Linked DNA regions of Homo sapiens: region 2 is linked to region 1. Evidence: fine-mapped expression QTL. A gene starts in region 1. The other region holds a variant in brackets. All regions are shown on one strand. Distances are between the middles of the regions.

What was found.
Region 2: its variant is fine-mapped to the expression of MAEA in lung (TOPMed, PIP above 0.99). The same link has a PIP of 0.9 or more in CD4 T cells, NK cells, blood mononuclear cells, breast, cerebellar hemisphere and coronary artery.

The regions. Positions count from the first base shown.
Region 1 is chr4:1,287,646-1,293,004 of GRCh38, forward strand. MAEA (macrophage erythroblast attacher, E3 ubiquitin ligase) reads left to right here and starts at 2,246. Exons shown (of 9, transcript NM_001017405.3): 1 at 2,246-2,337. The coding sequence starts at 2,269. LOC105374347 (a long non-coding RNA gene) reads right to left here and starts at 1,926. Exons shown (of 3, transcript XR_925046.3): 1 at 1,240-1,926. It overlaps LOC105374346 (a long non-coding RNA gene), which reads left to right. Exons shown (of 2, transcript XR_925043.3): 1 at 1-78; 2 at 381-649. RefSeq lists silencers at 1,767-2,176, 2,277-2,556, 3,645-3,827.
Region 2 is chr4:1,328,131-1,333,489 of GRCh38, forward strand. MAEA (macrophage erythroblast attacher, E3 ubiquitin ligase) reads left to right here. Exons shown (of 9, transcript NM_001017405.3): 6 at 4,627-4,735. Among named protein-coding and RNA genes, the nearest start is that of UVSSA, 16 kb to the right of the region's middle. The variant C/A (reference allele first, on the strand shown) is at 2,399.

The DNA of each region.
Region 1 (5,359 bases):
TCTTGGCTTACTGCAACCTCTGCCTCCCAGGTTCAAGTGATTCTCCTGCCTCAGCCTCCCAAGTACCTGGGACTACAGGTGAGTGCCACCACATCCAGCTAATTTTTGTATTTTTAGTAGAGACAGGGTTTTACCATGTTGGCCAGGATAGTCTTGATCTCTGACCTCGTGATCCGCCCGCCTCGGCCTCCCAAAGTGCTGGGATTACAGGCGTGAGCCACAGCACCCGGCCAAGTCTAGCAGCTTTTTAAGATCTAGATATGAAACATTTGCCATCTATTGCTTCTAATGGTGGCCACCTATGAGGCTTCATCTATGTAATAAGAACGTTGGTCTCCACAACCCCTTTTAACCCAGATGCTCCTTTCTCTCGATTCCAGATCTTTAGATAAGCACTCTTTCAACCAAATGCCAATCAGAAAATCTTTGAATCCACCTGTGAGCTGGAAGCCCCGCTGTGCTTTGTGTTGTCCTGCCTTTTCGGACCAATGTAAATCTCACATGTACTGATTGATGCCTACATCTCCTTAAAACGTATAAAATCAAGCTGTAACCCAACCACCTTGGGCATGTGTTCTGAGGACCTCTTGAGGCTGTGTCACTGGTCATGATCCTTAACCTTGGCAACATAAACTTCTAAACTGATTGAGATCTGTCTCAGACACTTTTTGGTTTACAAAAGGACTAATTCAAATACAGTTTTATCTTCCAACATAAGAAAACCTAGAATGAATGACTCAAAGGTTGTAGAGGGTTAAACAACCTCTCCAACGTGCAAACCTCTGCCTTATAATTCCTAAGTATTTCTGACTGTAGATGGTACTAGGATAGGATCATTTTACCATGGAAATGAAACCCGTGTCCTTTCCTTTGGGTTAATCTTGAATCCCTGGTGAAGTGAAGGCAGTCTCTAAGAGGAGTGCAGTCCATCCAACTGCTGCAGTGCTCCTGTGTACTACTGGGACCATCCCGGAGAGTGGCAGACACGATGCGAACCGTGAAAGGACGCAAAGAGTACAGAGTGCATGCTTCCATCTCTATAGGAAGGTCAGGAACGCTGTTACGGGGAGCAGGGTTAGAATGATGGGGATATAGCCCGGGAAGGGGCAGAGGAGCTTTCTGTGCCACGGGAAATGTCCTAAATCTCAACCAGGACACGGTTAGATAAAAGTGCAAATATGGGTGAAAATTCATTAAAGCTGTATAGTTAAGATTTGTGCACCTCACTGTAAAACTTACTTCAAATGTCTAAAAGACTGGAGTCTGCAGCCACACACTTGAGGAATAACACTTTCCTTAGTCCCAACTCCTGTTTAAGTAAGACAGAGAAAGATTCCACAGTGCGGGTCGGATGTCTTGCGGCTGTAACATGTAGCAGCCTCCAAGCGGAGGTTCTCCCTTCATCGCTGTGTCACCTTAGATGTTTTTCCTTTGTTTAAACACCAAATATTTTAAAAGTTGTTTAGAAATGTGTTATGTGAAACACAAGGTGGTTTAATTGGGACGTCATTTCCTAATTAATAAAATCTAATTTCAGTTTTATTTTGGAAAGGAGGGAGACGGGTGGTGTTTGAAAGGCTGAGAATGTGAAGTGGCTGAAATGAAGGCAGCGCACGACCTGGATGCCAGCGCTGCCCGCCCTGCAAGGAGAGGGCGGAGAGGCCACACGCTTCTCATGCTTCGGGAGTTTCTGTCCATAAATCAGTTTTAGGTACTGGGCCTTTCCTCTTCCGTTGGGAAGTCGGAGGTTCCACATCAGGATTCCAGCAGCTGTAAATCGGTCAAAATAAGGCCAAAGAAAAATAGCTGGCTACAGGCGCATGCGGCCAGGCGTTTTGTTGGCGTTGCCCTTGGTACCGCAGGCACGAGGGACCCACAGGGGACCACCCCGCGGGAGCCCCAAGTAACTGGACGGACGCCAAGTCCCCCAGCCCGCTCGGCCCCAGCTCCACCCGCCCGGGCCGCAGCCCGCACCCCATCGGCCCGCCCCGGGCCAGGAGCATCCCCAGCTCCGGCGTCTGCGGCCTGAACCCGGTAGCGAATTCAAGGTGGAAACCGCCAGCCGGGGCTATCGTTGATTGGCTGAACGAGAGGAAACCCGGCAGTGATTGGTTCGCGCCTTCTTCCGCCTCCGGCCGACTGGGCGGATACGATTGGTGCAGGGGCATCGGCCCGCCCCCATCCTGCTCCGGCCGGCGCGTGGCGTCATTTCCCGGCGTGCAGCGCGCTCGCGCGTCCCCCGCCCGCTAATGTTTTGGCCGCTTCAAGATGGCGGTGCAGGAGTCGGCGGCTCAGTTGTCCATGACCCTGAAGGTCCAGGAGTACCCGACCCTCAAGGTGGGCGCCTGCGCCGCGCAGGCTGAGGGCAGCGAAGGCGTCTCCAGCCAGTGCCCTCGGGCCGCGAGGGGCCGCCCCGGGAGGGCCAGCGGCGAGGGCGGCGGGAGCTGGGCGCGGCCTCGCGGGGCCGTGCGGGCTTCTCAGGGGCGCCCGGTCCGCGCCGGGCAGGTGTGGCGGGGGCGGCGGCTTTGGCCCTGCCAGGCGCCCGACTGTGGCCCCTCTGCTTGAAGAGCTGCGTGAGCCGAGCCAGCGACGACTCTGGCAGCGCTAAGGGTGGCGAATTTGGGGCTGGGGTGGAAGCCGGAGTTTGCGGGGCGTGGGGTCTCTGGCGCCCAGGCAGACGGAGTGCGCGGCGTGCCCAGCCAGTGCCCGGCCGCCCTCCCGGGAGCCCAGGGCTGGGAGGTGCCGGCTGCGCCGGTCGCTAGTTAGGAACTGTAGGGAGAAACCTCACGGCCTGATGGCACCCAGCGACCTTTTTGATGGGCGTCACCAAACCTGAAATACAGCTCTTGCCGTCCGGCTGCCGGTTGCGTGACCTTGGGTGGTCACCTAGCCACGTCGCACTTCTTAGAATGAAATTTGTGCTCCTAGTAGAAGGAGCCGATACTTGTTCTTTACCTAGTTAGTAGAGGATTTGATATGAAGCACCTGGGAAGGAATTCCTTAAAAGATCAAGGTCATAGCTTTCCTAGAGCTGCGGCTGAGCTTCGTGGTTCTGTGTTGCCTTCCTGGAGAGCTGCGTAGTTTCTCTCTCCTCCCAGAGCGCCCTGGTGTTCACGTCCGTCTGAGGACGGACGGTGTGGCGACAGGTGTGGAGGATGCAGTATGGCCAGGTTGCTGTGCGTTCCCCCAGCCCCAGGGCAGTTCAGCGAAGGGCTGAAGAGCACAGGCTGTGAGCCATCCTGCTGGGGTGTGAATCAGGCTTCTCTGTATTCGTCCTTACTGGGAGACATCAGGGCCCGGTTGGTGACTGTTTATTCTTGTCAGGTTTAAGCAGTGGTAGCGCCTGTGTCACCTCAGGGTGAAATGAGTGACCACGTATTGTTTCAAACAGTGCCTAGCATTCATTAAAAGGTCCCTGCTACAGTTAGCGCTGCTGAAGTCAGGCTGTACCCTGCTGTAGCTGGTCTTCATAGGAAAGCAGAAGCAAGCTTCTCCTCCTCTTTATTAACTAGCGGTTTATTTCATATTTTTAAAAAGAAACGGGGTTTCACTGTTGCCTAGGGTGGTTTTGGATTCCAGGACTTAAGCGATCCTCCTGCCTTTTGACCTCCCAAAGCGCTGGGCTGACAGGTGTGAGCCACGCGCCCGCCACACTAATGGTTTCGCAGTGGGGTTTCATGGTGCTTGTGTGTCCAGCACTTCTTTTGATCAAGGAAGGGAGGGCAATGTTGCTGACGTTACCAAAGGTCTAGCCTCTTGCTAGATCCCTCCAAGATGTAGGTGGTTGGTTTTTAATACTCAGTGACATTGGTGGATCTCTGTTGGTTTAGAGATGGAGACCCTGCAGCTGAGAGAAGTCTATACAAGGACATTGTGGTGATATTAGTAGGGAGTCCTAACCACTGACCACTTTGTCTCACGCAGTGCACCTCCAGGCCTGTCATTTCAGCTAACACACAAGAAGGTTTGAAGATCAGAACCGTGGTGGTTTGTCACTTCTGGTACTGGCTGGTGAATGTGGGAAACACTAGATAGGAAAAGTTTCCAGAAATCCTTTCATTGTGTATTGAAGGAACTAGGAAGGGAGATGGAAGGTCTCCGGAAAGGATTCTTCTTCAGGTCTTCTGCTGTTTTGTAATCGTGAATGTAATTTGTATTCCAGAGTGATTGCATAGCTTCTGATTAAAATAGTCATGCAGATAGTCATACAGGTAAAGAAATATTATAGTGTCATAATTTCTCTGTTGACACTTGTGTCACTACTGAGTTAAAACTTTTTTTCATAGAAGTTTTCAGGAGTGATTCCTAGTGGATAATGGAGGTGTTTTGCTGGGAAACTAGGGATCCTTGATTTAGAAGCATTTATTGGTATAGAACTAAACAGAACATGCTGAGCTCACAGCTCAAGAGCTGCACTCTTCAGTTTCCAGGAGGGGCCAGTGCAGATGTCAGAGAAGGGACCGAGGGCTGCAGGACCGGGGTTGTGGAAGGTGGGGGGTGGATGTTCTGCTTCTCTAGTCTGAGAGCAAGTCCTCCTGCAGGGTGGTAGCAGCTGGCATGCTCTGGACTGGATCTTCACCTGGTAATAGTTAAACTGCTTTCCTGCCATGTGAGTCCTCCACAGACTCACAGGGGATTCCTTTCTCTTCAGAGGGCTTGGTAGCCCTAGGTGGGTTTCAGCAGTAACACTTGGGATGTCTGCTTCCTCACAGCGTCAGGGCGGCTGGTGGGGCTCCTGGGTGCCTGGCAGGTACTTATTTTTCTATTTTCCTGGTGAAGTGGGAAGAGAATGGAACAGACGTGAATTGCTGCAGCCAACACGCACTGACCTTGGGCACCTCTGTCGTCATGAGCTTCTATTTCCACCAAAGGGGTGGACCGGCCTGCGAACGTTTGGGCTGGAGGAGCCTTTGTCGGTGGTGGGGGCTGTGCAGTCTAGGATGTCTAGCAGCATCCCTGGTGTCTGCCTGCCAGATGCCAAGAGCATGCCCCCAAAATGTCTTCAGACATTGCTAGATGTGCCCTGGGGGCATGCACACACCCCTGAGAATTGCTGGGCTGGATCCTGCTTTAAGGGACTTGTTTCTTCCTCTTACCAAACGGAGGTGTGGCTCATGAGGACTCAGCCTTGCGTCCTGGCTGTGGCTGTGTCTTTTTGCTGTCAAATGCTGTGAACGCCGTCCGGTGTAGGGTGGTGGGTAATGCCTTGTGGGGGAGGGGAAAGATGAATAACTCACCATCTTTTTTTTTTTTTTTTTTCTTTTTTGAGACGGAGTCTCACTCTGTTGCCCAGGCTGGAGCGCGGTGGCACAATCTCAGCTCACTGCAACCTCTGCCTCCCAGATTCAAGCAATTCTCC
Region 2 (5,359 bases), 40 kb after region 1:
CATCGGGGAATGTTGACAGCGTGTGATGAGGGCACTTCTGGGTTCTCCGGCCTGTCTCCGACCCAAGGGCGGCGTGCAGTGAGCTGAGGCCAGCGGCGCCCTGGTGGTCAGGCCTGAGAAGGGGATGCTGGCTGTCACTGTGGCTCAGCCCAGTTGGGGTGCACGGCGTCTGCAAAGGAAGAGAGGCTGTCCGCTGGCTTCCCGCTGGCTCCCCAGAGTGGGCATCGTCAGGCAGCAGTGGTCCCTGGCCTGGGCAGTGTCGGCCAGTTCATGCTCACCCCGTCTCGGGGCAGGGCTGCTCCTTGAGTGCTAGGTCGTCTCACTCACTTTCATGGAGGTTCCTGAGCGGCCAAGCCTTGCGGTGACGCTTGAGTTGCTGTGTGGGGTGTGTGGGCCTGGCTGGCCCTCAGCTCCCGGGCGAGTGCCCAGCAGGTGTGTTTGCCAGGAGGGGGCACCTGTCCATGCCCACAGAAACCCGACCGCGACTCCATATCCACCTGCAGTGGGCCGGGTGGCCGAGTGTTCCACAGAAGGCCCATTTGGAGAAGTGGGCGTCTCACGATGAGGTGCTGAGGGTGGTCCCCAAGACGCACGGCAGAACCGCGGCAAGTCCCTGCCCTTGCGTGGACCCTGGAGAGGCCCGGGGTCCTGCTCCGGCTCCTGATGCTGACCTGGGCGCATGGTGGCAGGTCAGGCCTCGTCTTCACGCACGAGGGAGCCAGGCCTGCAACGAGGTCCCTTCTGTGCCTGAGAGGGCTAAAGCGGGGATCTCGGGACCCGGGCCAGTGGAGAGTGGCGTGTGAGCATTGCGGGGACACGGCCAGGGGCCCCCTGTCAAGAGGAGGGGCTCCCGCTCTGCTCTGGCCTCCGTGTGGCCTCGGTGCCTGTGTCGCTGGCCTCTGTCCGGCGGCAGTCTGCTTCCATCCCGAGTCAGCCTCCGTCTCCTTGAGGGCCCCGGCCACTGTCAGCCCTGGAGTCTGAAAACAAAACGTGTCCATCCCGGAGTCCCTCCGTCACAGATGTCTTCATCTAGGTGGCAGCTGGTTCCGCATAGGGTCTGTTGACCTGTTACCCCCACTCCGCATAGGGTCTATTTGCCTGTGTTACCCTGGCTCCGTGTAGGGTCTGTTTACCTGTGTTCCCCCCGCTCCGCGTAGGGTCTCTTTGCCTGTGTTCCCCCCGCTCCGTGTAGGGTCTCTTTGCCTTGTTCCCCCTGCTCTGGGTAGAATCTGCCCTAGAGACTCGCGGGGCCTCCACCTCATAATGTCTGAGCCGAGCTCAGAGCTGTGCCCTCTGCGGCCTCGTCTGTTGCAGGGGAGCAGGCAGGTCCCAGGAAGTGCGTGTCCTTCCTCCCGCAAGCAGACACGTGCTGCCTCGAAGCCTCAGCAGCCAGCCGGGCAGGCATGGCAAACAACACCCCAGTGTCTCGGGGGCAGGCGCAGTGTGAGCTACATCCTCTGCTGGGGCCGTCTTGGGAGTGGTTCTCCAGGTGCCAGGGCCTGGTCAGGGAAGTCCGGCCTCAGCTCAGCGTGGCCCTGGAGCCACCCACAAGGCACACGGGAGCTGGGCTGGGGTGGCAGGTGGGGCATCGGCAGGACGTTTGTGGGGTGAGGGAGTGCGGGTGTTTGGCTGGGAGCCCAGAGGGTGTTGTGTATCACTCACTGAGGCTGGACAAGAGGGAAGGCGGAGAAGCCTGGCCACATGTCTCCTGAGGGCTCCAGGCAGGGCCCTCTCACCTGCTGCCAGGGTCCCAGCCCGCAGGAGCTTCCCGTCCACCTCTGAACTCACGGTCCACATGGCGCTGGAGCGTCGGGCACCATCTACAGGGCTTGAGGCCAGCAGCCTAGCCTCTGGGTCCACTGGGGCAGGCAAGGTGAGTCCTGCTGTCTGTGGAGCCAGCGTGCTGGGCCGGGCAGGGGGCCTCGTTGGCTGGGGTGGCTGCAGCTCCGCCCTGCCTGGGGCATTTGTGGGTTTTTGCGAAATGCAAAAGTATGAGCTGCTAGTGATTAACTTTTAACGCCTTTAATTTTTAGTAAATGAGTAAGTGAATCCCTGACCCCAGGCGGCTGGGACCTGGCCTGTACTTCATGGGCTTTGTGTGAGCAGCTCCGTGCCGTCTGTCGCACACCCACACCTCAGCCTGGCCAGGCACAGTTTAGGAATTTTGTCTTCTGGGTGTTTCTCTCTCTCTCTCTTTCCGTGTGTGTGTGTGTGTGTTTTGAGGTTGAGTTTTGCTCTGTTGCCTGGCACAATCTCAGCTCACCGCAACCTCCGCCTCCCGGGTTCAAGTGATTGTCCTGCCTCAGCCTCTGAGTAGCTGGGATTACAGGCGCCCACCACCACGCCCGGCTAATTTTTGTATTTTTAGTAGAGATGGGGTTTCACCATGTTGGCCAGG[C/A]TGGTCTCAAACTCCTGACCTTGTGATCCGCCCACCTTGGCCTCCCAAAGTGCTGGGATTACAGGCGTGAGCCACCGTGCCTGGCCCGTGTGTTTATATTTTTAAAGAAAAATGGAAGTTTTTGTGTTTCTTATGTTAGCTGCATTTAGTTTGTTAAAAGTCACGGTTTTGTTTCCCCTGTGTCCTGTGGATGCATACCGTGCTGTTCTCCCCGGACCTGCTCTGAGGGCCCCACATCTCGGCTGCAGTTCTCTGTGTGTTGGGGCTGAATGCTGGCATCAAACGATCTGAAAAGAGTCAGCCGCCACTGTTAGGTTTTCTGTTTCTGTCTTGGGGTCAGGATTTGTGGATCAGGGACCTGGGGTGCGAGGTGAGGCAGCTTGTTAGGCGGATGATGTCTGTCTGGGGTTTGATTGATGGTGAGATAAGACGCGTAAACCAGGTCATGCAAATGAGATCTTGTAGATGTCAACCACGGAGATTAAATTTCCTCTCTTCAGCAGCTCTGGGAGGAGGTGAGATGCCCGTTGGCCGTGTTCTGTGCACGTCTTGGCGTGTGACGAAGGGTGACTTGTCTCCAGAGATGGAATGAGGGGGTTGGGTGGGGCTCCTCCTGGACTCAGACCCACGCCCACCCACACGCTCCAAGGAGGGGGATGCATGGGCACTGGAATCTCGGATGGCCGTCCCCAGCCCCTGCACACGCACCCTGCGGGGTCAGCCGTGTGGACTCACCCCCGACTCCCAGTCCCTGTATGCACCCTGCGGGGTCGGCCGTGTGGATTCACCCCCGACTCCCAGGCCCTGCACAGGCCCTGGGGCGTCAGCCATGTGGACTCCCCAGGCTGGGTCCCAAGCGTGGACGCCCCCCACTCCCTGCTGCCCCGGGCTCTCCTGGTGGTGCTTCCAACACGTGGTCCCCGTGCTATCCATCAAGGGGCTGCTGGGCCACCTCCTACACTAACTCCAGTCTCTGCGAGACACTGCATCTTCTCCAAGGCCACCGTGAGCGCCTGGCACCTCCTCAGCCCTGTGTTCCTTGGTACATGCCTTGTTCTGGACAGCACAGGGCTGACTCACACATGGGACTTGAGGCCCCTGGTTCTGTGCATTGGGGTCGCTTTGGCAGAGGGGCCCTGAGGGCTGAGAACGTGGGGTGCACAGGGGCCCGTGTGAGGGTCAGGACATGGGGGTGCAGGCCCTCAGGACAGCCAGAGGGACAGTGACCCTGTGTGTGGGGGGGGGCATGAGAATGGGGGCCCTGGGGGTGAGCAGGTGCCCGCTGGTCAGCTTGAAAGGGATCTGTTATGTTCTGCTTTGGTTTCTTGGTTGCCCAGCCTTAGACTGGAGTGGGGTTCTGGCCTGGAGTAGGCCTGTGTGCATCCCGCAGAGTTGGCTCAGGAAAGATCGTGGCTGCATGTGGTGTGTGGCACGCTCAGGGCTGAGAGGGCTGGGCCGGATCTGCAGGGAGTCCAGCCTGTGGGCTGAGGGAGGCTGTTCTTCGGAAGGTTGTGCTGGGCGTCACTGCCAAACAGCAAGGACTGCAGTTGAGAAGACTACACGTTCTTGGTCCGCTGGGGCCACGGGGTCCGTGGGGGCGAGCATCTGGGGAGAGTGGGAATCCTCAGGGTTTGGGTTCCTTGTAAACCAGAATCGCTTTGGAGAGCCCTCGGGGGCAGGTGCCATTTGCAGTTCTGGTGTTTTCCGTGGGTTGTCTGTGTGGCTTGGGTGCCCTGGTCCCCTGGAGGAAGGAGTGTCTGGTAGCTGCTCCTCCAGCCTCTGGTGAGCCGCACCTCCCGCCATCCCAGCCCCACCCAGCAGGTCGGCTTGGAGTGAGGCGATTACTTTGTACCTAGACTCTGACATAAAAGCTGTTAGCTCAGATTTTTCAACTTAAAAATGCAGGCCGGGTGCAGCGGCTCATGCCTATAATCCCAGCACTTTGGGAGGCCGGGGCAGGAAGATGGCTTGAGCCCAGGAGTTGGAGACCAGCCTGGGCAACACAGCGAGAATCTGTCTCTAACAAGATGTTTTTTACATTAGCTAGGTGTGGTGCTGCACATCTGCGGTCTCAGCTTCTCGGGAAGATCGCCTGAGCCTGAGAGTTCGAGGCTACAGTGAGCTGTGACTGTGCCACTGCACTGCAGCCTGGGTGACAGAGTGAAACCCTGTCTCTAAAAGTTAAAATTAAAACGCAAACTTAAATGTGCCAAAATGTTGTTTTTTAGACATGCAAGAAAGCACTTCAGCCAAGCAGAAGGGAGCCAGCTGGACGAGGTGCGCCAGGCCATGGGCATGCTGGCCTTCCCGCCCGACACGCACATCTCCCCGTACAAGGTAGGGCGTGCGTCCCTGGGGTCGGTGTCATGCTGGGGTGGGGATCCAGGGTGTGTCTCTGGTCTGTAGCTGCTTCCACACGTGGGGCGGGACGTGAGGGCCCCATCCCAGCCACACAGCCTGTCCAGCCTGCCAAGACAAGCTTTTCTTGTTTGACTCCCATTTTGCTCATAAGAAATTTGAATCAGGGCTGTGTGTGGTGGCTCACCCCTGGAATCCCAGCACTTTGGGAGGCTGAGGTGGGAGGACTGCTTGAGCCCAGGGGTTTGAGAACAGCCTGGGGAACATAGTGAGACCCCACCTCTACAAAAAAAATTTTTTTGAAAATTAGCTGGGCATAGTAGCACCTGCCTATAGTCCAGCTACCCAGGAGGCTGAGGTGGGAGGATCACTTGAGCCCATAAGGTTGAGGCTGCAGTGAGCCAAGATTGTGCCACTGCACTCCAGCTGGGGTGACAGAGCAGGACCTTGTCTCCAAAAAAAAAAAAAGCAGTTGAGAAAGGTTCAGGAAGCCTTTCAGCCTGGAGCGTTCAGCCGGGGCCCAGCTTCCTTGCCTGTCCCCCTGGTTCTCCTTTCTCTACAGCCCCTGAGTCAGGAGTTAGGCTGCACCGTCTTCCGTGGTTC